7 linked regions of the Homo sapiens genome follow. The protein of the gene in region 1 interacts with the protein of each later gene in a pairwise test. Each region holds a gene or a part of one and is shown in the gene's direction. Other genes may lie near its edges.

The links.
Region 2: the proteins of CSTF2 (region 1) and TFG interact in binary tests that used the Homo sapiens proteins (3 or more experiments, as listed by UniProt).
Region 3: the proteins of CSTF2 (region 1) and PRDM6 interact in binary tests that used the Homo sapiens proteins (3 or more experiments, as listed by UniProt).
Region 4: the proteins of CSTF2 (region 1) and USP54 interact in binary tests that used the Homo sapiens proteins (3 or more experiments, as listed by UniProt).
Region 5: the proteins of CSTF2 (region 1) and RFX6 interact in binary tests that used the Homo sapiens proteins (3 or more experiments, as listed by UniProt).
Region 6: the proteins of CSTF2 (region 1) and ATP23 interact in binary tests that used the Homo sapiens proteins (3 or more experiments, as listed by UniProt).
Region 7: the proteins of CSTF2 (region 1) and POU6F2 interact in binary tests that used the Homo sapiens proteins (3 or more experiments, as listed by UniProt).

Annotation. Positions count from the first base shown.
Region 1 is NC_000023.11:100,826,891-100,830,390, forward strand, and holds part of CSTF2 (cleavage stimulation factor subunit 2), read left to right. Parts: intron 1-1,149; coding exon 1,150-1,212; intron 1,213-3,500. UniProt on the Homo sapiens protein: One of the multiple factors required for polyadenylation and 3'-end cleavage of mammalian pre-mRNAs. This subunit is directly involved in the binding to pre-mRNAs.
Region 2 is NC_000003.12:100,743,994-100,747,493, forward strand, and holds part of TFG (protein TFG), read left to right. Parts: intron 1-839; coding exon 840-938; intron 939-3,500. UniProt on the Homo sapiens protein: Plays a role in the normal dynamic function of the endoplasmic reticulum (ER) and its associated microtubules. Required for secretory cargo traffic from the endoplasmic reticulum to the Golgi apparatus.
Region 3 is NC_000005.10:123,095,741-123,099,240, forward strand, and holds part of PRDM6 (putative histone-lysine N-methyltransferase PRDM6), read left to right. Parts: intron 1-3,486; exon of another isoform or gene 3,487-3,500. UniProt on the Homo sapiens protein: Putative histone methyltransferase that acts as a transcriptional repressor of smooth muscle gene expression.
Region 4 is NC_000010.11:73,500,843-73,504,342, reverse strand, and holds part of USP54 (ubiquitin carboxyl-terminal hydrolase 54), read left to right. Parts: intron 1-70; exon of another isoform or gene 71-159; intron 160-3,500.
Region 5 is NC_000006.12:116,922,242-116,925,741, forward strand, and holds part of RFX6 (DNA-binding protein RFX6), read left to right. Parts: intron 1-865; coding exon 866-983; intron 984-2,427; coding exon 2,428-2,550; intron 2,551-3,211; coding exon 3,212-3,418; intron 3,419-3,500. UniProt on the Homo sapiens protein: Transcription factor required to direct islet cell differentiation during endocrine pancreas development. Specifically required for the differentiation of 4 of the 5 islet cell types and for the production of insulin.
Region 6 is NC_000012.12:57,944,567-57,948,066, forward strand, and holds part of ATP23 (mitochondrial inner membrane protease ATP23 homolog), read left to right. Parts: intron 1-1,061; coding exon 1,062-1,107; intron 1,108-2,159; exon of another isoform or gene 2,160-2,194; coding exon of another isoform or gene 2,195-2,265; intron 2,266-2,428; coding exon 2,429-2,510; intron 2,511-3,500.
Region 7 is NC_000007.14:39,466,505-39,469,101, forward strand, and holds the end of POU6F2 (POU domain, class 6, transcription factor 2), read left to right. Parts: 3' UTR 1-2,097; downstream 2,098-2,597. UniProt on the Homo sapiens protein: Probable transcription factor likely to be involved in early steps in the differentiation of amacrine and ganglion cells. Recognizes and binds to the DNA sequence 5'-ATGCAAAT-3'. Isoform 1 does not bind DNA.

The DNA of each region.
Region 1 (3,500 bases):
TGGAGGAAATAGTAGATTTCTTACGTTAAATCCTGTATGTCTAATTATAAGAACAGGGAAAGGGACAGTAAAGTGAAAGAGCATAGTAAAACTTCCAAGTTAACAAGGGGGAAAATGGAATGAGTGGAAACAAAATCAAGCCAGCAAAAATAGAGAAGAGGAAAAAAGTAAGAGACAGTGTAAAATAAGTAATAATAAATGTAGAGTAAGATGGAAGGAATAAAAACTAATGTAGTTGTTACTCTGCTAAATATGAATGAACTGTCAGATTAGGTTCAAAAGCTCATGAAGAAAACAGACAAAAAAATACAAGGTCACATTTGTTATAGCATATTAAACTGACATAAAATTGTATTTTAACAAACATAATCAGAACAAACAACAAAAGGGAAAAAGAGAAATTTAAAAGCTATGTACATTTATTGAAAATGTATAGATCGGCAATTAATAAGAGTATTGCTCATATACTTGTAACTGTTCCTTGTTCAACAATTGTAACTAAGAAGATTGAGTGAAATAATGATTCCCCATATGAAACATCTGTATGAACACATGATGTATTACCAATATTTAAAGTTTTTTTATGTAACAAACTTGGTTTTTGTTAATTTATCTAATCTAGGGTAGGTTGAGTACAACACTACTCATGGAGAATGATTTAATTCTAAATTGTTCTGTTCTGTAGAGAATCCAGTCTGCAGAGCTAAGTTGATGAGGAATGGAAGAAGAGATTTTTTGAAGAAATTTCTGCAAACTCAGGAATTTTTTGTATCTACTTTAGGATTGTTATGTATCTACTTTATCCTAATAGAGTTATACTTGTATTTAAATTATCTTTCATGACAGGAGGTCCATGGGTAAGTGACATTGTTTTCCTGTATTATAGAAGAGCTTCCTGCCAAGAGTTTGGTAACCAATGAAATGAATTATTCTTATTGAACTCACTATTCTGTCACTGAAACATAAAGTACAAATTGTAAATATACTAACAAACCCCATCTTCTCTCTCATTGCATTGTTGAATATCTTCCTTTGTAGGTTTCTGCTTGTGGAGCAGAATGAGGAAATTTGTAAACTCAGCCACTGTTCTAATTTTTCTTTTCCGCTGTTCTAATTGGTGTTTTTTCTTGTCTGCCCTTTATCTTCTAGGAGGAATGCAGGCTCAGGTTGGAATGCCAGGAAGTGGACCAGTGTCCATGGAACGGGGGCAAGGTAAATAAATATTAATGTCTGACTAATGTTAATTGGTCATGGAAGTGTTCCACATCCACAGTATCTAATATGGCAGCCACTAACCACCCATGGCTATTTCAATATTAAGTTAATTAAAATTAAGTAAAATTTAAAACTCAGTTCCTCAGTCACAATAGCCACATTCCAAGTGCTCAGTGGCCACAGGTGACTAGTGGATACCATACAGGACATTACAGATATAGAACATTTCTATCATCGTAAAAAGATCTATTGGACAGTGCTGGTCTAGACTTTCCACCTGGTGATTCAGAGTCCAGCTCTACAAGAATTGATAATGAAGCAAGTGGATCGTTTGTTTCCTGATTCCTAGTCTAATAATTCCACTGACATGTTCTCTCTCCCTGTATGGATATCTGTTGACTGAGTAAGGAATTTTAATAATGAGCATGTAAATATGTGGCTGGGTATGTAGAAGACTAGATTTAAACCCCAGAGAAAACTGGGAGGGAATCATAGGTCTGTAACGCCTACTTAATGAACATATGTTGTACCGTGGCTGTACTGCTATATACAACAGTAGCTGCTGCTCCAAAATCTCCATGTTGTTTCTTCATGTTACTGGAGTTTGAAGGACAAGAAAGTGCAGTGGTTCAGTTGGAAACAATGTTAGGAGGAGAGATCGTAAGAAAAGAGAAGGAACTGAGTGCATACTATATGCCAGGCACTTTAATTTTCATAAATAATCTTGTGAGTTAGGTGGCAGCACCTCAGTTTTACAGGCAAAGAGTTGGAAGCTCAGAATAAGTTACTTTCTCAAGGGGACAAGGTAAGTAAATATTAATGTATGAGTAATGTGGACTGGATTTGGTGCTCTTATTTTCTCTTCCAACTAGTAAGTGGCAGAGCTAAGATTCAGAAGTCTTTGACTCCAGAATCTGTCCTCTTTCTGTCACTCCACACTGCCTCTGTTAACTTCCAAGCATATTCTTCAGTGTCTTCTACTCTTATTCCTTGGGAATAAAATGATGGGAAAGACTGCTTTGGACAAGCATAGAGAAGCTTAAGGTTTTTTCTTTTGTAGCATATGGTTTATAAGTGGAACCCATTTAAAAAGCAAAATATTGGCCAGGCGCAGTGGCTCATGCCTGTAATCCCAGCACTTTGGGAGGCTGAGGTGGGTGGATTGCTTGAGCTCAGAGGTTTGAAACTAGCCTAGACAACATGGCAAAACCCCGTCTCTATAAAAAATACAAAAACTAGTTGGGCAATGGTGGTGTGCACTTGTGGTCCCAGCTACTTGGGAGGCCGAAGTGGAAGGATCACTTGAGCCCAACAGGTTGAGACTGCAGTGAGCCATAATCGGGCACCACTGCACTCCAGCCTGGGCAACAGAGCAAGACCCTGTCTCAAAGAATATATATATATACACACACACACACATATATATACACACATACATACATAAACATTAATATACAAGCCTGTGGTTTTTACACTGGGGTTGGTTGCTGAAGTGACAGAATTAACTTTTTCTTGTTAGAAGTCTGACAGCAGGACAAACTCCCTGGCCAAATATCTCATATTTTCTCTAAGCATCCAATGCTTTTGTGCTATTGTACATCCCTCTATCCCCACCGCACCACTGTCAATAGATCATATATGTTCCCCAGAGTATTTCTGCAGTAATGAGAAGGTATTAGGGTTTCAGTCATACTTCTGCCTGTCATGGGGCCAGCCCTCAATCCATCAGGTTTTAGCTGTTTAACGCATACTTGCACAAGACATCTTCCTATTATAGTTATCTTCACCTTTTTGTCAGAAATTGGCAAAGGGAAGTGACTCATGTTTTGAGGGTATTTCCAGGATGTCTTCATGCAGAGACTAAGTGAGATGAGCTTTCTTTTATAGTTTCCTTCAGTACCCAGCAGAGGAAGCAAGAGTCTTTTCGTGTGTGCCTAGTTTGTCTTACTTTTCCTGAAATCCATGCTGCTTTTAATGCTGAAAGGAGATGGAGATGTTTGAGAAGATACTTCTTGCTTCCCTGCCATGTTTGTTTAGTGTCGGTTCCCATGTCATCTCATTAGTCTTTGTTTGCTGTTGTCATGATGTTTATTATCAAAGACTTGCTGTGGCAGAGTATTTCTTGTGGAGTGATATTCTCTTTCATCATGTAAAGTTCATTCACTGCATTTCCCCATCTGATACATTTTTGACAGCAGAAATTTTTGTGCTTTAAAATGTGACAAAAATAGAATTGCCGTACTTCAGTTATGGCCGTTTCAGAATGAATCTTGCCTTCCAGATTC
Region 2 (3,500 bases), on another chromosome or scaffold:
TAATTGAGAAGTAGAGATAATAAAGACATAAACCAATAAATCTTTGCTTGAAAATCACAGGTATGGGAACAGATTGTGAGGACAGAAAAATAAAAAGTAAAAAGAAAAATCATAGGTAATAAGTGTCTAAAGGGTTTCTTCATAGGAACAGTGGTTGTTGACCCCAAATAGGACAAATAGGACTCCCATGTTCAAGAACACATCACCGTTGTTAAAAAGGTCTGCCATTATTAAATAGTGCAATGAAGAACCATTTAGACTTTATTAGAGTCCACGTTATTGGCAAAAGATGTTGGATATTCATAGAAAATCAAACTTGACAAATTCCAAAAGTGTCTTTCAGCTCTGGAACAAAAGATGTCATATAGTTCCTTGCTACCAAAGAGTTTGTTCATATGGTAATAGAGGCCCATACCTTTAGAGGGCAAATACAGTGCTTTAGGAAGGACTTAGATGATATAAATGGTATTTGTCCCTTTTCTCATTTTTATTTACTGATTTTCAACTCACTTGGCTTTTAATGAACATTAGCGTTACTTATCTGTTGGCAGCTGGGTTGGAAAACATTTGTTTTTCTAGACTTTATGAAATGGTAGCCACTGGTGTTGCACTTAATGTTTATTGCCAGTTAGTTCTCTGCAGTTAATCCACAGCAGAGGAATCACACTTCTAAAATGGTTCATTCTCTTCTTCATAGACATTTAAAGTTGAACAAATACTTTCTTGTATATTGTTACTCTGTTTGGATGGAGAGGGAATGTATATGTATCTTAAAAATATTTCTCTTTGCCACATTAAACATGCCTTTTTTCCTTGTGTGTGTGTGTGTGTGTTTTCAGGTCAGATGTACCAACAGTACCAGCAACAGGCCGGCTATGGTGCACAGCAGCCGCAGGCTCCACCTCAGCAGCCTCAACAGTATGGTATTCAGTATTCAGGTGAGCAGGTGTTGAAAGGGAGTTGGCTCATGGTTTTTTGTTTCTATACTCATTAAACTTTAAGTTCTTAATTCCTTGATTTGTAGTACATTGATATAATAGGTATTAAGTTTTTATTAGGGGAAACAACATTTGTTTTATTTATTTTTAAATATTTTACATTAATATTGTAAATCAACATTTCAGTTTTCTGGTGGGGAGATAAAACTTACAGTAGATGATTCTGCAGTAACTTGTAGTATAAAAAGTTTTTAATACAAAGCTGTCTTACTAACATTATCAGTTTATCTCTTAGGCGACTTAGTGCAAGTTTTCCCCCTTCCCTCCACCTCTCCATTTATATGTAACACGTAATTCCAGTGTACTCTTAGTACCTGTAGAAATATGAACAGTTTACTATACATGGAAAGGTGATGTTATTTAAATAAGAGCTCAATTAAGCTACTTAGATTTTAAAATCTCTTGCAAGTATGTAGGAATACCAGAAATAGGCCATAAAAATAAAATCGTATAAAATGTAATTCAGGCAACTAAGAACATTGTTTAGTTGTTTTAAATAAGCATCCTGAGTATTTTGTTTCTATTTTACCATCTGTCCACTGAAGATTATATGTATTTAAGTATGATAAATATTATTAATGTAACTTTGGCTATAATTCCAGTATTTTTTACAGTTATGTCAGAGAGTTTGTGTCCAACTCTTGTTTTACAGCCAAAGATTGAAGTATCAGAATTTCAACTGTAATTAGAAATAATTTATGCAGGTTGAATCTAGTCTAAATTCTATTTTATAGAGTTTTGTGGTATCAGCTAGAGCAGGAGTCAGTAAAGTATAGCCCACAGGCCAAATCTGGACTATTGCCTGTTTTTTTGAATAAAGTTTTATTGGAACACACTTCTACTTTTATATTCTCTACTGCTACTTGGGCACTAGAATGGCAGAGTTGAGTAGTTGCAACAGAAGACCATGTGGCCCACAAAGCCTAAACTATTTACTATCTGGCTCTTTACAGAAAAGTTTGCTGACTCCTGACCTAGACCATAACATTCTGTCATTAATTAAAATTTGAAATATTTTGACACAATTTTATTTAGATTGTATTTGCTGTAGAGTGACTTAACTTGTAGCTACTTGTTTTTAATTGTATAAAATACATAGAACTTAAGTTTGGATTATATCAGGAGGAAGGTTATTTTTAGGATGCAGTTCTTTTAAAAAAATCAGTGTTACAAACTATGTTATTTATAGAAAGAATAGCAGAGCTGAAGAGATTTAGTCATCATTTAATCTCGGGATTTCGGTCCTCACTATGCTTTAGAATCACCTGGGGGAGGCTATGTGTGGGGCCCCATTCCCAGAGATTTTGAATTTCATTTGATTGGGTGTGGGACTCAGGCGTTTGCATTTTATAAATGAGGCAACTAGTTTTGAAAGAGATTGTGACTTGTCAAAGCACATACAGCCATTCAGTGGAGGGAGCTGGATCAGTTCAGTATTTCCCTGTATCATTCTGCATTCTACAACCTAGACTGGAGTTGGCAGACTTACTCCATAAAAGGCTAGATGTCCTATGTATTAAAAAAAAAACTCACATAATTTCCATATTTCCATTTTTTTGCTATTTCTGATGTCCTTCACCTAAAGTTATTTATTATTTTGGAGGGACGGAAGGGAGACTATATATATACACACACACACATGATAGAAGCATTGCCACATTATGTTCAAGAGACTGGTGGGCTGCTAATGAAATCTTCAGCCTGTAGGGTTATTCCCTCCCCTAAGCAATAATTAAGGATCAGATTACTTCCAGGCCCAGTTAAAAAAAAACAATTCAGATTTCAGGTGCCAGGATGAAAAGGCACTTTTCTTTTTTCTCGCAGTGTTAAAATGAATAGGCATTTTCAGTATAAAGCTGAATCCATCTATTTCTTCAAAACCTTATAGTGAAAATTTAAGTTTTATGTAGAGGATAGGAGAACTTGTATGACATTCAGAATTTTTTATGAGTTGGTTTCAGGTCAGTATTTAGATGCTACCATGAGTTAATGCGTTAAAGATACTTGATTTACTTATTAAGAACTAAGCTTGCTCTTAATAAATTTAGTCAGGGTCTTCACTCTGAGTAAAATTTAGTCTTTTCAAATTATTATCTTTGTATTTCTGATCCTACTAGTCTATTAACTTGAATTTGATTGAGAGATATGGAAATAGTCAACTAAATACTCTGCTTGGAGACTAAGAGGTGGTGGTGGTAACATTGGACCATCTTTGACACTGTTGGTTTGCCAGTTTCCCTCTGACCTTTTCCAGTTTTGTTCATGGACTATGTCATAAAGGTTTCTTTCATGAGTAAATTTTGAACCCAGGTTCAAGGTGAGTTCAGAATATACTCAAATTCATTCAATCCTTTTTTTTTTTAATGCAGGGTTGTACATATTTTAATAATTTTCTTATGTATCTGGTATTTAATGCTGACAGGATTCCAGTCAATGGAGAGGTTTCATTGCAAGTAGCTGCAGGTGTGTTTCATGGTAGAGATAAAAGTTTTCAGTGAAGCA
Region 3 (3,500 bases), on another chromosome or scaffold:
AGGCGTCGGGCAGGTACTGGGGAGTGAAGATGTGATGTAGCTCTCACTCCCCACGCGCCTACACATGACTGTTGGCCTCTCCACACACCAAAAGCCCGGAAGCGTTTTATATTTCACCTTTCCTAGAACGAGAAATGAAATTCCAGAAAAGAAAACCATGGCCTGCTTTGCCGCCTTTACCTTAAAATAGATATATTGTAAAGATCTATTGCACTTTAAAGACATTGAAACAACACAGAAGGATAGGAAATGAAGAGTGAAAGTCTGCTCTTAACTGCACTTGGCCTGGCCTTCTGATGCCAGGAGGCGAACAAGTCTGTAACCTAATGACAGCACCTTCCTTTACTCAGAGACGCTTAGACAGGAGCATTGACAGATTTACTCAAGATAGAAGAGTATTTATGAATAACAATTATGAACTTGTACAAAAACTCTTCCCCTGATTTTAAGAGAAAGTATGAACATTTACTTGCTTCCTTGTTAGGAACCTAAGTAGTTGTATTATGTATTGCTTGGCTTGGAATGCTCTGTGTGTGTATATATAATATAATGACATATATTATATACATTTATACATAGTTTGGTCCTCTCATATAGCCTGCTTCTCTTTCAAACCTTTTCATGTAGGTGTTTATACTCTGCTAGAATGTTTGTCTTCTTAAGCATATTTGTCAATCCCAAGAAATGTTACTTGTTTTTAATATCCTCAAGCTACCCTGAGACTCAGACATAAGTTAGAACCCAAATGTTTCAGCTGGGGGATTTTGTGTATTAAAAAATAACATTGGAATATAACATGTATCTTGATGGCAGTTGGTCAACTTTTCTGGCAGAATATTTTGATATAGCATGAAGTGGTTCACAAATTAAGAAGACCCCTGTTGGGTGGACTAATTAAAGTTGATTGACTTTGTCTAGCCTGCTGTGGACCTAACACACAGATAGTCTTCTAGATATTGGGAGAGCCTCAGTTTTTCACTTTTAATAGTAGCATAATGCTACTATTAAGTTTTTCAACTCTTTATGGAGACAAATGAAACAATAAGTTGAAGACGGCTTTAGAGGACTTCTTGGAGAAAGGCCTTAGCCACAGTTTTATTATCATGCATTACAAATATTAGAAGTGTGCTTTTTGTCTATGGAGGTAGTGGCTGGAGTTGGTACCTATGCTGATGTCGTTGATGGGATGACACGTGTGGAGAAGCATGTTGGAAGTTGACTGTCTCTGGCACAGGCTGCTAGGGAATGAAAACTAAACACTCTTCTGACCATTTGCATCATTGAGTCAAGCAGAAAAAAAAATCAGTTAAGTAACTCCCTGGAGTGACTTATTTCTATTTCCATGGGCATATTGCCTTTGCTTATTGTCATTTGCTTTTAGCTATTTTTGCAAAGGTGCTGAAAGGCTGTCTCTGAAGTCAGACAGTAACATTCAAAATTATAGACATTATCTATGTATTTTCCTATCCAATCTCTTACTTTAATGTCCGAAAACACAAGAGTGTGGGAAAGAGAGAAACCTCTATAACTCAATCATGCTACAGCAATTTTCATGGCCCCCAAAGTTACTTCAGTGAAATATTTCAATTCAATTGAGTCATGAGTTTGAATGTTAAATTTCCCCAGCTTTCATTAGTCTTTTAAAAATCTCTGGGTTTAGAGGCCTTGCAGTCAGGCAGCCTTGACTGTGAATCCTTTCTCTGCCACTTTCTAGCTTCTGGTTCTTGGTGGAGTAGTAGTGCTTGGGAATTGCTTTATCTGCAGAATGGGAATCATGATACTTAGATAATATGCTGGTTTTTGGTTCTAGACAGGTGTCTGACACATGGTATGCACTGTAATTGTGTTTATTGTCTTTCATGTAATTCCCAAAATGTCTTGAAGTTTTTATTTTCACAATCAATAAGCTTGAGAGGGTGTGTGAAGTGTGTGTGTTTCAGAGGAGTTGACATATGGATAAGTGTGAGAATACTCCCATCCAGGCCCTGGGGTCAAAAGCAGAGTCTGGGAGAATTTTAACAATAGTTTGTGTTGCTGGCAGAGGAAGGACAGAAGAGGGCCTTTGTGCAAGGGAGGCCCAGCGGCATGGACACTTCTCTGCTTTCCGAAACAAGTTGTTGCTTTTCACTTCAGAGGTCTGGGGACATTTCTGAGAAGCTTGCAGCCCTCATTCTTCCAGCTCTCTTGGGAGGAGTAGAGGAGTAGCTGCTGACTGAGGCAAAGGTTTGGCTGGCTAGAGCCCCCTCCAGTGAGACAGGAGGCTTACATAGTCAGCCCTCCTTTGCTGTGAAGCAAATGGCAAATCGAGGGCTCCCTTACCATGCTGGGTTGCGATTAGCTGTTCCTGACACAAACGTTTCATACAGACTCACAAGTTTCTTGGGCATTTCGGTCATTTCAGCGCAGATAGGGCACATCCAGGGTGATCCAACAGGCCTGGCTGCGGCCAAGGCTGGCGGCGGCAGGTACCCGGGTGCCCCGAGGGCCACCCGCCGCCCCGCTCTGGCGCATCCATCAGTGGCCAGCTTTCACCGTGTCTGCCAGGCGGGACTCGCCAGGTGTCAGGCTCAGTGCCATAAGCCTGACACTTGCGCGGGGTCGCCGTGGCTCCTCAGGGAAGCTGGGCCAAGGAGGCTGGGTCGCGCCGGCGGGCGCCGAGGCCACCTTCTCGGGGCAGGCCATCCGCGCTGAGGCGCAGACACGGCGGCTCCTCCAGGCCCATTAATAACCCGGAGGGCGCTGCGATCCGACAGCGCAGTCGCCACAGGCTCTATTTCCCGTGGCCGCCTGCCTCCTTCCAGCCCAGTTCGAGTGGAGGGATACTGGGCGCCCACTACCGCCCGGCCCGGAGGGTGGGGGTCCCTCTCGCGCAGGCTGCTTTGGAGAGTGTCGGAGAGAGACAGCTTTATCTACAGCTTCACCCATTGTATAGCACAACAGAATCGCATTTAGCCTGGAGAACAGCCGTCGGGGCAGGAGTTGGTGCCTTCTCTAACAATTAGGCTGATCGTTAAATTTGCTATTCCTTTCTTCCGGCGTCTAGGGAGAGCGTGCACACCAAACCCTCCAGAACAGCACCCCGGTCCCCCACCCCGCCCCACCTGTCCCCGCCCTGCTTCAGTGCCTGGAGGGAGAACTGACTGGTCGCTTGAGGGACCCCATTTCGGGCGCGCCCTTGGAGTCCTGGGGCTGCGGCTCCTGCTCTACCGGGCTGCAGGCTTGCTCTGCCCCGTCCCGTGGCGTTTGGGAGGCAGTCGAGGAAGCCTCCGAGTCTCTGGGTCGAAGGAAGTGCGAATGGCACCCGCGATAGACTGGCCGTCTCCCCCACCCCGCCCCGTCTGGTGATTTTAAATCGTCTCCTGTGTAATTGTAAAAAGAGGAAAGCTGAATACCCAGACGACCAGTATAGAATCTCTTCGAGACAGCAGATTGGGCAAGAGACGGGCTTTTTTTCGCAATACAAGGATAAACACATCCTGAAACTCCAGATAGAAACCTCA
Region 4 (3,500 bases), on another chromosome or scaffold:
GGAAAGCCCAAGCCATTAGAGATCAACAAACTTAAATAATATCAGTGGCTAGGTTTGTAGGTAATCATACCTTTGGAGAATTTCACTTCCTTGCCCAAGTTGAGTGTTCATCACAGTAGAGGTCAGGGTACAAAGTACCAGTGCATTGAAGGTTGTCCACTAGGTCAGTTCAGGAAAAATGTAAAAACAGATTTTAAATACATGGTACAAAAATAAAAAGGTATAAAAGCATATATGGTGAAAACCAAGTCTGTCTTCTACCAGCCCTTCAGATTCAGTTTCCCTCCTAAGAGGTACTCATTTTTCCAATTTTTAAAAATCAGCCGAGGCCAGGCGTGGTGGCTCATGCCTGTAATCCCAGCACTTTGGGAGGCCAAGGATGGTGGATCACCTGAGGTCAGGAGTTCGAGACCAGCCTGGCCAACATGGCAAAAATATAAAAATTAGCCAGGCATGGTGGGGGGTGCTTGTAGTCCTAGCTACTCGGGAGGCTGAGGCAGGAGAATCGCTTGAATCCGGGTGGCAGAGGTTGCAGTGAGCTGAGATTGAGCCACTGCACTCCAGCCTGGGTAACAGAGCAAGACTCTGTCTCAAAAACAAAACAAAACAAACAAAAAAACCCAGCCGAATTTATAGTAAGTTTCATTCAATTTATCGTTCATAAATTCCTAAGCAATTCTGATCAGGCTGCCATTCTTTTTTGGAAAAGGTGGACTCTCCTGCCTAGCATTTGTTCTCATGTACTTTCAATTCATTTAATGGCAAATTGTTCTTTTCCTAGGAGAGTTGGCTTCCTTTCTTCTGACTTCTGTATCATTCATTGATTCATTCTTTTAAATAAATGCTTATTGATTCTGTACAAGATTCCTAGCACAAAAATAAACAAATAAATAAGTGCTTATTGAGTGTGTTCTAGGTATTGTGCTAGGTGCTGGAGCTACAATGGTGAGTTAGATATAGTCCCTGCTTTTATGGAGCTTACAGTCTACAGTGAGGGACGGATAAATAAACAAACAGTTATAATGTGTTAAGGATTTGATCCTATGGGAACATAATAGAAGGGATATTTAAATCAGGCTTGAGGTATCATGGAAGGCTTCCTGGAGGAAGCAAAAAGAATATAGCAAGTAAAAGGGACCTGAGCAAATATTAACTGAATTAAAAGAAGCTTATTTAGTATGGCAGGATTAGAAAGTCTGGCAAGGGGAGATGATGGAGAGTGTTGACAAGAGAGGATACAAAGAATATTATGGACCACAGACAGCCCTGTATGTCACAGTAAGTAGTTTGGAAGGATAGAGATAAGTCGATGTATTTGAGACCCAGTTAGGAAGTAAACATCAGTGGGAGTTGGTGCCTGCCTGGATGTTGGGAGTGGGGATAAAGGATGATACTCAAGTTTTATGGGTAGATAATGATATATTTGAGGGAAGATATGCATTCAGTTTTACATATATTAAGCTTGAGTGGAGGTATCTGGCAGGCTTTTGGAATGAGATATATAAGCTGCAAATTGAAATCTGGGAATCATAGCCATTGAAAAAGAGGAAAAGACTTGCAGAAAGAGAAGAGGAGCCAGGACATATCCCTAAAGAGCATCAGATTTAAGGTGGTTCTTCTGAAGAACCCTAAAAGGAGACTGAGAAAAAAAGATTAGAGAGACTGAAGGGAAACCAAGGATGTGTGGTACCATAGTCACCAAGGGGAGAGTGTTTCAAGAAGAAAGGAATAGCCGGGCGCGGTGGCTCACGCCTGTAATCCCAGCACTTTGGGAGGCTGAGGCGGGCAGATCATAAGGTCAGGAGATTGAGACCATCCTGGCTAACACAGTGAAATGCCGTCTCTACTAAAAATACAAAAAAATTAGCTGGGCGCGGTGGCGGGTGCCTGTAGTCCCAGCTACTTGGGAAGCTGAGGCAGGAGAATGGTGTGAACCCAGGAGGCAGAGCTTGCAGTGAGTGAGCCGAGATTGCGCCACTGCACTCCAGCCTGGGTGACAGAGCGAGACTCCGTCTCAAAAAAAAAAAGAAGAAAGGAATAATTAGCTGTGTCACATGCTGAGAGGACTGGCACCTGGTCCTTAGGCAGTATGATAAATGCTTACTTTGTGCCATTTTGTAGTAGGTGCTGTGAGCATACACTGATGAAACAACACAAATTCTGCCCTTGAGTAGCTTGCAGTCTCGTAAAGGAAATTAGACATACTGGCATATAGATTATTTTATTTAATGTATTATTACTAAGTGCCCACATTGTTCTAGGCACTGTTCAAGGTGCTGCGGATACAGAAGTAAAAAGAAATAGGGGAGAAGACAATAAACAAATAAATGACATAATGCCAGACAATGATAAGTATGATAAAGAATAATAAGGCAAGAGAATAAAGAGTAAAGAGGTAATAGTGGTTTTTTTGAGGGCTATTCCTGATAGTAGGGTAGTGAGGGAAATCAGCTCTAAGGAAGTAACTTTTGATTAGAGATCTCAGTGATATGAAAGTATGAGCCATCAGAAGAATATTCTTGGTAACAGAAACAGGAAGTATAAAGACTCTGAGGTAGCAATGAGCTTGGTGTGTTTGAGGAATATTAAAGTTAGAGTGTAAAAGCTCCAGGAATGATAGGAAATAAAGTGAGGAGCAGCAGGGCCATATCACACAGGACCTTGTAGGCCACAGTAAGGAGGAGTGGATGGGAGATAGGAAAAGCAGATTGAAGGCTGTTGCAGTAGTCCAGGTGAATTTAAATATAAAACCCATAGGTAGAAATGATAGTCCTTGGCAAGTAATGGAATTGTGGATGGGAAGTGGGAAATCAAGGTCATTGCCAATGTTTGAATATGGGTGATTTAGGAAAATGAGGTGCCAGGAGGAGGAGTTTGGAAGGATTTTGGTTCAATTTTGGATATGTTAGTGTTTCAGATGTTAAAGGGGAATATTTCTGGGTATTTATCATAAAAGTAGATAACTAATAGGGAGTAGAGCAGGACATTAGCATCAGTAAATACAAACTTGACAGGCAAAAGAGGAAGCTGTGGAATGTGTAGCAGTGACAGGAGAGAAGATGGGGTAGAGTTCTTGATTCTACATTTAAACATATATAGTTTCATTCCCAGTACTTAGAATAAGTGAAGGATTTTTTTTTCTCATTCTCTCAGGCTTTCTGAATTTCTCATATTTCGTTTTTATTTTTAAATTTCTATCTCAATCTCTCTAATTCTACTGTTAGCATTAAGGAGTTTGCTAAAGACCTGAATGATAGGGTTGGGAAGGTGAGGGATATGAGGAAGACTGGTTAAGGGATAAGGATCTGAAGTTTGCAGTTTCTTAGAGGGCTAGCAGGGAGAGCAACTGAGTAAATTGGGTCCTGTTCCAGAACAAGGCATGTAGGCATGTTTGTGCTCTGGTTCCCTCCATTTCCCTTTGCTTGCCTCACTGTGTTTACCCAACTACATCCTGCTTTGTGTTAATCCTCATCTCTATGTTTTTTTGTCTTGTCTCATTA
Region 5 (3,500 bases), on another chromosome or scaffold:
GGAAGGCTGTGTGTGTAAAGGCTTTGAAAAGCTTTTGATGCTCTACGAATAAGGCAGGCCAAATACTGAAATTAGGAATATGTCAAGATTTGAGAGCATTGGGCATGGATTCCATTATATTTCTCCTTTCTTGCCGAAAGACTACAAGATGCTCTGCCTTCCCTATCAGTCAATAACATTACAGCTGAGTAACATCAGTAGAGAAAGATAAACTTAGAAACTGGAATGATCTGGCCCGTTTCTAAAAAGCAAGATTTCATAAATGCTGATGGAAAACATGGTTCTAAGCATTTGCATTTCTGAATTCCAAAAGCTCAATATTTTGTGTTTTCTCTGTGGTTTCTTCACCTTCTTTGGTTAACCTAGTCACCCATTGTGAAACAAGCAATAAGAACAAATATATCCATCACTAGTTGGTGTTGGCCATTCCATATCAAGGAGACTAGTTATAGTTTGGAGACTTTTTTCCTTCTGTAAGGAAAATAGATTATCATTCAGTACCAAAGAAGTCAGAGTTAATCATTCACAAAAATATATAGCCCTTCCTTCACACCTCACCTTCTGTTCTTTTTAAAGCTCTGTCAAAGAAAAATTAAAAAATAAAAATATTTTGAAAATTATTTCATTTTGTTGTCTAATTCTATTAGGAAACAAAGCCATATTGAATAAAGACTTATTACCCTTAAAACATCAGCAAAGACAGGCTAACATTAAATTCCCTGGACAGATAGTTTTATTTGATGAAATAAATGCCATGCCATCTGTCCATTTGTTAGACAGTCTATTTACTTCTTGATCTAACACAGGATGCATGTAGTACTGAGAGGACGGATTTTATAGTTTCATTTTGTTCCTTTACTTTTAGACCAGCAAACAAAATGGAAGGTCATTAAAGAAGAGAGCTCAAGACTTTCTGTTAAAGTGGAGTTTTTTTGGTGCTCGAGTAATGCATAATCTCACCTTGAACAATGCATCCAGTTTTGGTAACATACGTGCATTATAAAACTGTTCTTACATGAATTATATAATTTGTTCCTCAGTCACAGTTCCTGTCAATTTTTAAACATGTTACATCATCACTTCTTAAACTGTATCTGAATATGGAGCTATGAGAAAATGGTATTTATGAGCCTGGGTTTTGGAGTCAGACCATAAGCAGGATTAAATCCTAACAATGATTGTCTCTGGCTATGGGCCAATCTGCTCATTGAAGAAGGGGAAGAATATTCTCTTCGAAGGGTTGTATAGGTACTTTGGTGAGATGATGTATATAAAAACAAATTGCCTAGCACTCAGGAAATGCTTAATGCATAGCAGCTATTATCATTACATTCCATCAGTGCTTGGATAAATTTTCTTTGTTAAACAAATGATAATTAAGACATTATTTTCCAAAGTTATTATTCATTGCAATACGGCAAATTTCTGCAGCTTTTCTGAGCACCCATATAACTGCACTCCAGGAATCAAAAAACAGCTTAGAAGACACACTGTCATGTTTCTGACCCATCTTTCCTGTTCTATATGACTTGGGAGACAAATAGGGTTAAGTTAGCTTTTTATAAAATTGAATGCCTTCTTTTTCCTTAGAATTCCTGAGACTCCTATTTTATAGTTATAATGTTAACTCATGAGTAGTAACTCTGCATTTGGTAGCTGCATTTCAGGAAATCTTCACATTATGAAAGAGATTACAATTAACTAAATTGTTTTTATTTAATGTTCTATAGAATTAAATAAAATCAGTGAATTTGTATTGAAGAATAAACAAAACACATTGTCTATTATTTGAAATAGACTTCCCATATTTAAAGTTTTATAAAATATACAGCATTGAAGCCTGGCCTTACTACGAAAAATACTTTTGTTGGAAAATCTATTGAATAGTTAAAAGAAGTTTTAGTTTTCCAGAACATATTTCACTTGAAAATTACTCTTTTAGTTTTTGCCAAATCTAAGAATATTTTGTTTCAGGCTAGAAAGATATCTCTTTACTTGACTTTTTTCAGACCATGTTGGCCATTGTCTAATTATTTAGTACAAAGTAAACAGAAATAGAGCAGAGTAGAGCTCATTCTCCCCAAGTTGAAGCTTATCACACTCCAATGTGTGCCCTCTTAAAGCATAAAGCATGTCTCACTTTCATCCGTATTTTCCTTTGATGTAATTAGTGGCCAAAGAGCTGGCAGGACAGTACACACAGTGAGCAGGGCAGGCAATACACAGAAAGATTAGAGATCCAAGTTAAGCATGTTGGTCTTAGCAGGTCATTTAAAGTCCAACAAGTATTTGTTTATTTCAGTTGCTCCTTGTAAAGTGTTGCGAGATGGTCACAAAGATAACTGACTTCTCTTTCCCTTTCCTTCTCTTTCTCTCCCCTTTTTACATTTCACACTGTCCTCTCCTCATTCTCCATCCATAAACAAGGTTCTTTTCATTTGATTCGAATGCTTCTCGATGAATACATTCTCCTGGCCATGGAGACCCAGTTTAATAATGACAAAGAGCAGGAGTTACAGAATTTATTGGACAAGTATATGAAGAATTCAGGTAACTTAAAATAACTGTTTTGTTTTGCATATTTCTTTGTTTTAATCTTAAGTTCAAGAATTTATAAGTTCAGATATTAAGTGGGTTTATCATAATCTCAGAGTTTTTCTCCAAACATGTCATTACTAATTCTCACCATACAGTCACACTATTGGAGCACTACTTTTCTTTCATTCATTGCTATGTAGTCAAAAGTACTTTACTGGAAACTCTGAAGTATACAAAATTGGTGATCTTAATTTCTGGGAATTAAGGTGAAGTTGGAGAAGTGACTATAATACAAAAAATAACTGTAATTCAAGACACATGTGGTATACTACATATGTAAGTGGTGTAAAAATAAGTTCTATAGGAGTTTAGAGAAGGAAGGAAACACATCTATTCAGGATAGGGCAACTTGCATTTTGAAGACTTCACTCCAAACTGGATTATTTAGTGCTCCTTATCTACATCCACATCCGCAAATATGCAGCTAAAAAAAACCTAGCATCACTGTCAAGAGCAAAGGTCTGCCAACCTCACTTCCCATGGGAAACATTGCTTAGTAGTTTCCAGATTAAATACTCAACAATGAAACATTTTCATTTTCTTTTTACTTGGGTTTATCTACGAGGAATGTGAGAAAAAATCTCAAATTTCCCATTTTAAAAACTCTTTCCAGATGCGAGTAAAGCTGCTTTCACTGCTTCTCCGAGTTCATGCTTTCTGGCCAACCGTAATAAAGGGAGCATGGTTTCCAGCGACGCTGTGAAGAATGAAAGCCACGTGGAGACAACCTATCTCCCTCTGCCATCCAGTCAACCTGGAGGCCTAGGCCCTGCTCTGCACCAGTTCCCTGCTGGGAACACAGACAACATGCCGCTCACAGGTACGCTAAAGAGAACTGCTTAGGCTCCAGCACATCTCAGAGAAGCCTGTTGCTTCATTTTTCTTAAAACTCATAACTTCCA
Region 6 (3,500 bases), on another chromosome or scaffold:
TCCTGGAATACAGTTACCTGTTCCTTGAGGCTCTTTCAATCTACTGTCTATTGTTTCACCAGCTTTAATTGTTGGAGAAAAATCCTTTCTCATACTGAGCTGAAATCTGCCACATGTAACTTCCATACTTTGGTCCTTGTTCTGCCCTTTGAAGAAATATTAACTGAATCTAGTCCCACATGGCACCCCTTCAATACTTGAAAGTAGTGTGGTCCTAGTTAAGTCTTCTGTCTCCTTTCCAACCCCCCAAATCCTTTCTTGCTTCTTACTGGAAATAGTCTGTAGTACCCTAGTCACCATCCCCTGTGGAAGAGCTTCAGTGGCAGGTCCAATTTAGAAGGTGGTAGTACTCAGCATGGGACATGGTATTGCCGGTATGATCTGATCAGGACAGAACAGTGTGGCTACTGGCTTCCTCAAATCTAGGTACTGTGCTGTTGTTCACTTCTAAGAATGTGGCCCTAGATTCCCTCAGTCTTTTGGTATATACCGTAATACAACGTGTTTGATCATTTAACTAAAAATGAACTTTAAAAGCATAGTTGATATTGTCTAAGATGCTTAGTAGTACCATCTTGGTATTTGTATTAGTGTTTTATTTCAGTACAAACTTGCTTTGATGTTGATTTAAGCTTGGCCTCTCATGTCAATTTTTACCAATTTTAAGATAACATTACTTTTTTTTTGAGACAGAGTCACTCTATCGTCCAGGCTGGAGTGCAGTGGTGTGATCTCAGCTCACTGTAATGTCTGTCTCCTGGGTTCAAGTGATTCTCATGCCTCAGCTTCCCAAGTAGCTGGGACTACAGGCGTGTGCCACCATGCCCAGCTAATTTTTGTATTTTTAGTAGAGACGGGGTTTGCCATGTTGGTCAGGCTGGGCTTGAACTCCTGGCCTCAAATGATCCACCCGCCTCAACCTCCTAAAGTGCTGGGATTACAGGCATGAGCCACTGCATCTGGCCTGTGAGTTACTTTTTGATAATATCTTACACTGCTATTTGGGTAGTTTAATTGGTGCTACTTTTCCAATTACTTAATTAAATCAATATCTTTTTTAGATCCATATGTCAAACTTCTGCTTGATGCTATGAAACACTCAGGTTGGTAAGTAACTCTTTTTGAAGTGCTGCTCTGAGGTCTGGCTGCTGAAAACAAAAACCAAGTTCTCTTCTTAAGAGAACTGCTTAAGATTTCTCTGAGGTCACAAAGTCTTTTCCATAGGGTAAATAGAGGTAATTGGCTGCATTGTCTCCGGGCTGGCCTTGTTCTCTTTGGACATTTTCTGCCCTAACTCATGTTTTTTTTTTTTTTTGGGGATAGAGTCTCGCTCTTGTTGTCCAGGTGGGAGTGCGTTGGTGCTGTCTCGGCTCAGTGCAACCTCCGTCTCCCAGGTTCAAGCAATTCTTCTCCCTCAGTCTCCCAAGTAGCTGGGTTTACAGGCGCACGCCACCATGCCCGGCTAATTTTTGTATTTTTAGTAGAAATGGGGTCTTAGCATGTTGACCAGACTGGTCTCGAACTCCTGTCCTCAAGTGATCCACCCACCTCGGCCTCCCAAAGTGCTGGGATTACAGGTGTGAGCCACTGCGCCAGCCCAGCTCATTTTCTAGTTCTTACCATTCACCTTGGGTGATTAATAAAGACAGTACTCAAAATTTTCTTGTAAGTAATTACCAAGCCTGGCCTTTCTGCTACACCAGCCTGAGCACTGTTTTTAATGGAAAAGAAATCTCAGCTTGTTATGTAGGAACCTTGCAGATGTTGTATAACTTTGAGGGGTTTAAAGGAAGTGACTTCTGACATCCACTTCTTAACATTCTGGCCCAAGGGCAGGAACTCCAGCATACTTGCAATATGGCCATAATCAGTTGAACAAATTTTTTTTTTTTTTTTTTTTTTTTGAGACGTAGTTTTGCTCTTTTTTTTTGCCCAGGCTGGAATGCAGTGGCACGATCTCGGCTCACCGCAACCTCCGCCTCCCGGGTTCAAGAGATTCTCCTGCCTCAGCCTCCTGAGTAGCTGGGATTATAGGCGCCCACCACCACCCGGCTAATTTTGTATTTTTAGTAGAGATGGGGGGTTCTCCATGTTGGTCAGGCTGGTCTTGAACTCCCGACCTCAGGTGATCCACCTGCCTCGGCCTCCCAAAGTGCTGGGATTACAGGCGTGAGCCACCGCGCCTGGGGGACAAATGTTTTATGGAATCATATCTATAGAATTTGAACTAGAATGGATTTTGTGTACAACCTCCTTATTTTACAGGTGAGATAACAGTCCTGAAGATGTTGTTTCTTTCCCAAGATTTCCTATGTGTTAGTAGTAGAGGGGATTTACTATATGGTGGAGGGTCTCCTGAGCCCTGGCCCAGGGCTGTTTGCCACATACACACTGTTTCTGGACATTGTCTCCTTTTCTTGCCTTTTAGTGCTGTTAACAAAGATAGACACTTTTCTTGCGAAGACTGTAATGGAAATGTCAGTGGAGGTTTTGATGCTTCAACATCTCAGGTAGGCATTATTGCCAAATTGTTTCCTTCCCTTTAATCCTCTCTCTTTATATTTTTTGAGCATCTTCCACATGCTCGGCATTCTGTTTGGTAGACTTTATGTAGGACTAAAAAAGTGAATTAGTTATCCTTACTCTAAGGAGTTTACTCTTAAAATCTCTTAAGGAGTTTACAGCCTTACAGGAAAGATAAGACATGAACACAGATAATTATAAAATGAGGCAAGCTAAACCATTTTAGGTGGGCTTGGTTACCACAATGGAACAGTGATGTGATCGATTGAAAGATGCCAACAGATTCGACTAGAGGATATAAAGCCTCCTTAGGGGCAGAGCAGGGACAGAGCAGGGGCAGCATGAGCAAAAGTGCATGCTACGAAACTGCATGGCATGTGTAGGGAATGGCATATTGTCTAGTTTATCTGGAGGGCAGGAACATGTGGGGAATGAGGGAAAATAGGATTGGAAGGAAATGTAAGCCCTATGGTGGGAGGTTTTGAATGCTAAATTAAAGGGTTTTTACCTTTACGTGGTGAGAATTGATACTGCCTGTGAAAATTTTTTATTAGGGGAGTTTTCTAATCTGTACAATTTGGGCAACGATTGTATCTATTTTATGGAATGATTATGAGAATTAAATGAGATATCTCTTATAGAGTTGCTTATCTTAGTGCCTGGCCCATAGTAAGCATTCAATAAATTTTATTATTAGTTTTAAGTCATCAGAGAGTTTCGACAGAGTCTTGGAGGTGGTAGATAATGTCATGTGATCAGGGTAAATGATGGTGTTATAAGTAACTGTTTCCCACTTGAATGTATAATTCATACTTAACTACACTTAACTGTTTCCTGCTGGATAATTTTGTATGTATTTAGGTTATTTATAGCATTTTTACAGTAATCATGTGAAGTGGCAATATAGAACAAGGATGAGAAGTCTAGATTTTGGAGTCAGACTTGAGTTCAAATCCTAGTTTCCTTGCTTATTATCT
Region 7 (2,597 bases), on another chromosome or scaffold:
CTAATGTATTATCTAGAAGTAAGTTGTGAAAGAAAAAAGAGAAACCCAATCTCAAGTTGCCCAACTGATTAGAAATGCCATCTCCTTCCCCTAATACACTCCCTCTCCCTGGGGAGTTTGAGTTTCTTCTGTTGGCTCCTTTGCTGTTTGTGTAAATGCTACAGTATAATTGTCCCCTCCAATGATTCATGCAGCAATCAAGAGACTACCAGCAAGGAAACTCTAAAAGGAATCCTGGAAGTGGAACAAGTCACTCGTAAAGGTGTTTCCATTTTACCAGTCAATGCTAACTGGACCACAGCTAACTTGATCTTCAATGCCAACATCACAGAGCCCCTTTCGCCACCTCAAAAACTGCACAAACATGGACAACCCAGAAACCCAAAACTTTATTGATTAAAACAGATTTTGGATTCTCCTAGGACCTGCTCCAAATTCCATCAAGAAAAGCTCCCTGCGAAGAGAAGTTAACAAGATAACATATGATGGATGCTAAATATTTAAATATATGCCGGCAGCGGTTACATAAGGCCTGCTCAGTTCTGAGATCTATAATTGGGAGGGTCTAACTAGGACAGGGAAAATATAAAATAAAAGTAATCTTCCAGAGTGGAACAAAAAAGAAATATATTCATCCGACAGTCGTAACACCATTCATGTGCAGTGATTTTTTTATAGTTTTATAATTTTGTATTGTTTTATAAATTATTTATAAGGTGTTGTAATGCTTCTTATATTAATTTTTTACAGATAAATTTTTTGCTACAAGGCATAAAAAGGTGCCTGAACCGATTCTTAGGAATATAAATTATACTGTGTAACTCATAAGTCTTTGGGACCACACCTAATGCTTAATTTTATGATGACATTTCTCATGTCTACTTGTAAACAACTTCATATGCCAATGGCGTTTAAGTGTCTTTTATGTTTCCATGAACTGAAGGTTAAGGTTGCCACCCACAAAAAATAAAAGCCACTTTGGGCATATGTGATTGTATTTCAAGCTTCAGTATTTTTCTCACATAATTTTTAATTATTGTTATCTGCATTTTCATTACTTCATGAAAAAATGACAGTGGATATTACATTTTACACTTGTTTATAGATTTTCTTTCTTTTTCAACCAAGAAAATATTTTGAACAATTGAAACTTTTAATTGCATTTGCAAGGTTTTGGCTTCTTTATGTTGTCATCACACAGATGCACACACACATACACATACAACACAAAAGAGAGAACAAAAAAGCAAAAGGAGCTAGGAAAAAAACAAAACAAAACAAGTAGAGGTGTATCAAAGAACTCAAGCTATAACCAAAAAGAAATCGTAAAATGCCTTTGCTCGTTTCTCTACGCTGGACCAAAGCTCAATATTTGTAGGTATATGCACATTGTATAGATATGGCTAAATGTTGCTGACAATCTCGCAATACTAAACTGTTCCTATTTTAAGAAAAAAAAAAGAAATACAAACTGTTCATCAATGTTTTACCTCAGCACTCTACTTGTACCCAGTTAATGACCAAGCTTAAAAAAAAATTGAGATAAAGGAAATTGATTTTCATTTCAATGTTTGACTGTAAAATCTGTTTGGATAACATTTTGTAATGAGCTTTTTGTCATGTGATTTGCTTGTCTTCAACTTGAAATTATGTGAGGCACATTTGTTTATTTGTTGTTAAGAAAGTGATTTTTTTTTTTTTTTGTCCTATGTGCTGTGATCTAGACTGGTCACCGGGGTCACTTATGAGGCACCACAAAGAGATCTGCTTCTCCGTGCCCGGAGCAGGCAGCAGGAGGGAGGGCAGGAAACAGGACTGGGTTGCTTTGGAAAAATCATCATGACAAGAAGTTGACATGATAGACTTGTGACCAAGAAGCCAAACTGAATATTTAAAAGCTCCTTACTTGCTCTGACATTGAAACCAAAGCTGATTTTATCTGCACAGGTTGCTTAATATTTAAAAAAAAAAAAAACTGTACTTAATCTAGAGCAATATCTGTATGGTCAGTAAAGCTGCACTTTGTGTATTTCTTAACAGCTTCAGATCTGTCACTTTTAATTTGTACCATAAAAAATAAATAATTGTTTGACATGAGCTTCTAGGCTAAGTGTGTCTCACACTCAGATATGTCATTTAAGTTGTCAGCATTTTAAAAACTGTACATTAAAACCCCAAATGTTAAGGAAAGGAAGGGGTTCAAGACAGATTGGTTAATATCATGATTATTTTAACTTTTCAAATGACATATTGTATTCATTGGGACTCTTTTGGTTGCAAGTTATAGGAATTCAACTGAAACTTGCCTACACATAAAGGTACTGTGTTGTTTGACTTAATGGGAAGTTCCGTTGTGGACCTGAAGCACAGCTGGATTCAGTGGTTTCAAAGATGTCATCAGCCTGTCCTGCTTGGCTTCCTTCTCAGATGGATTCTCTAACCATTGACTCTAAGGCTTTGAATCATTGCGCCCTTCTCTAAACTAAGCACTGGTGCTGCGGGGTGATGCACATAAATTCATGGTCACAGGCTCATTCCTGTCTGTGGGGGGAGGGTGGGGCCTCACTCTGACGACCCTGTGGGACCACAAGGATTGA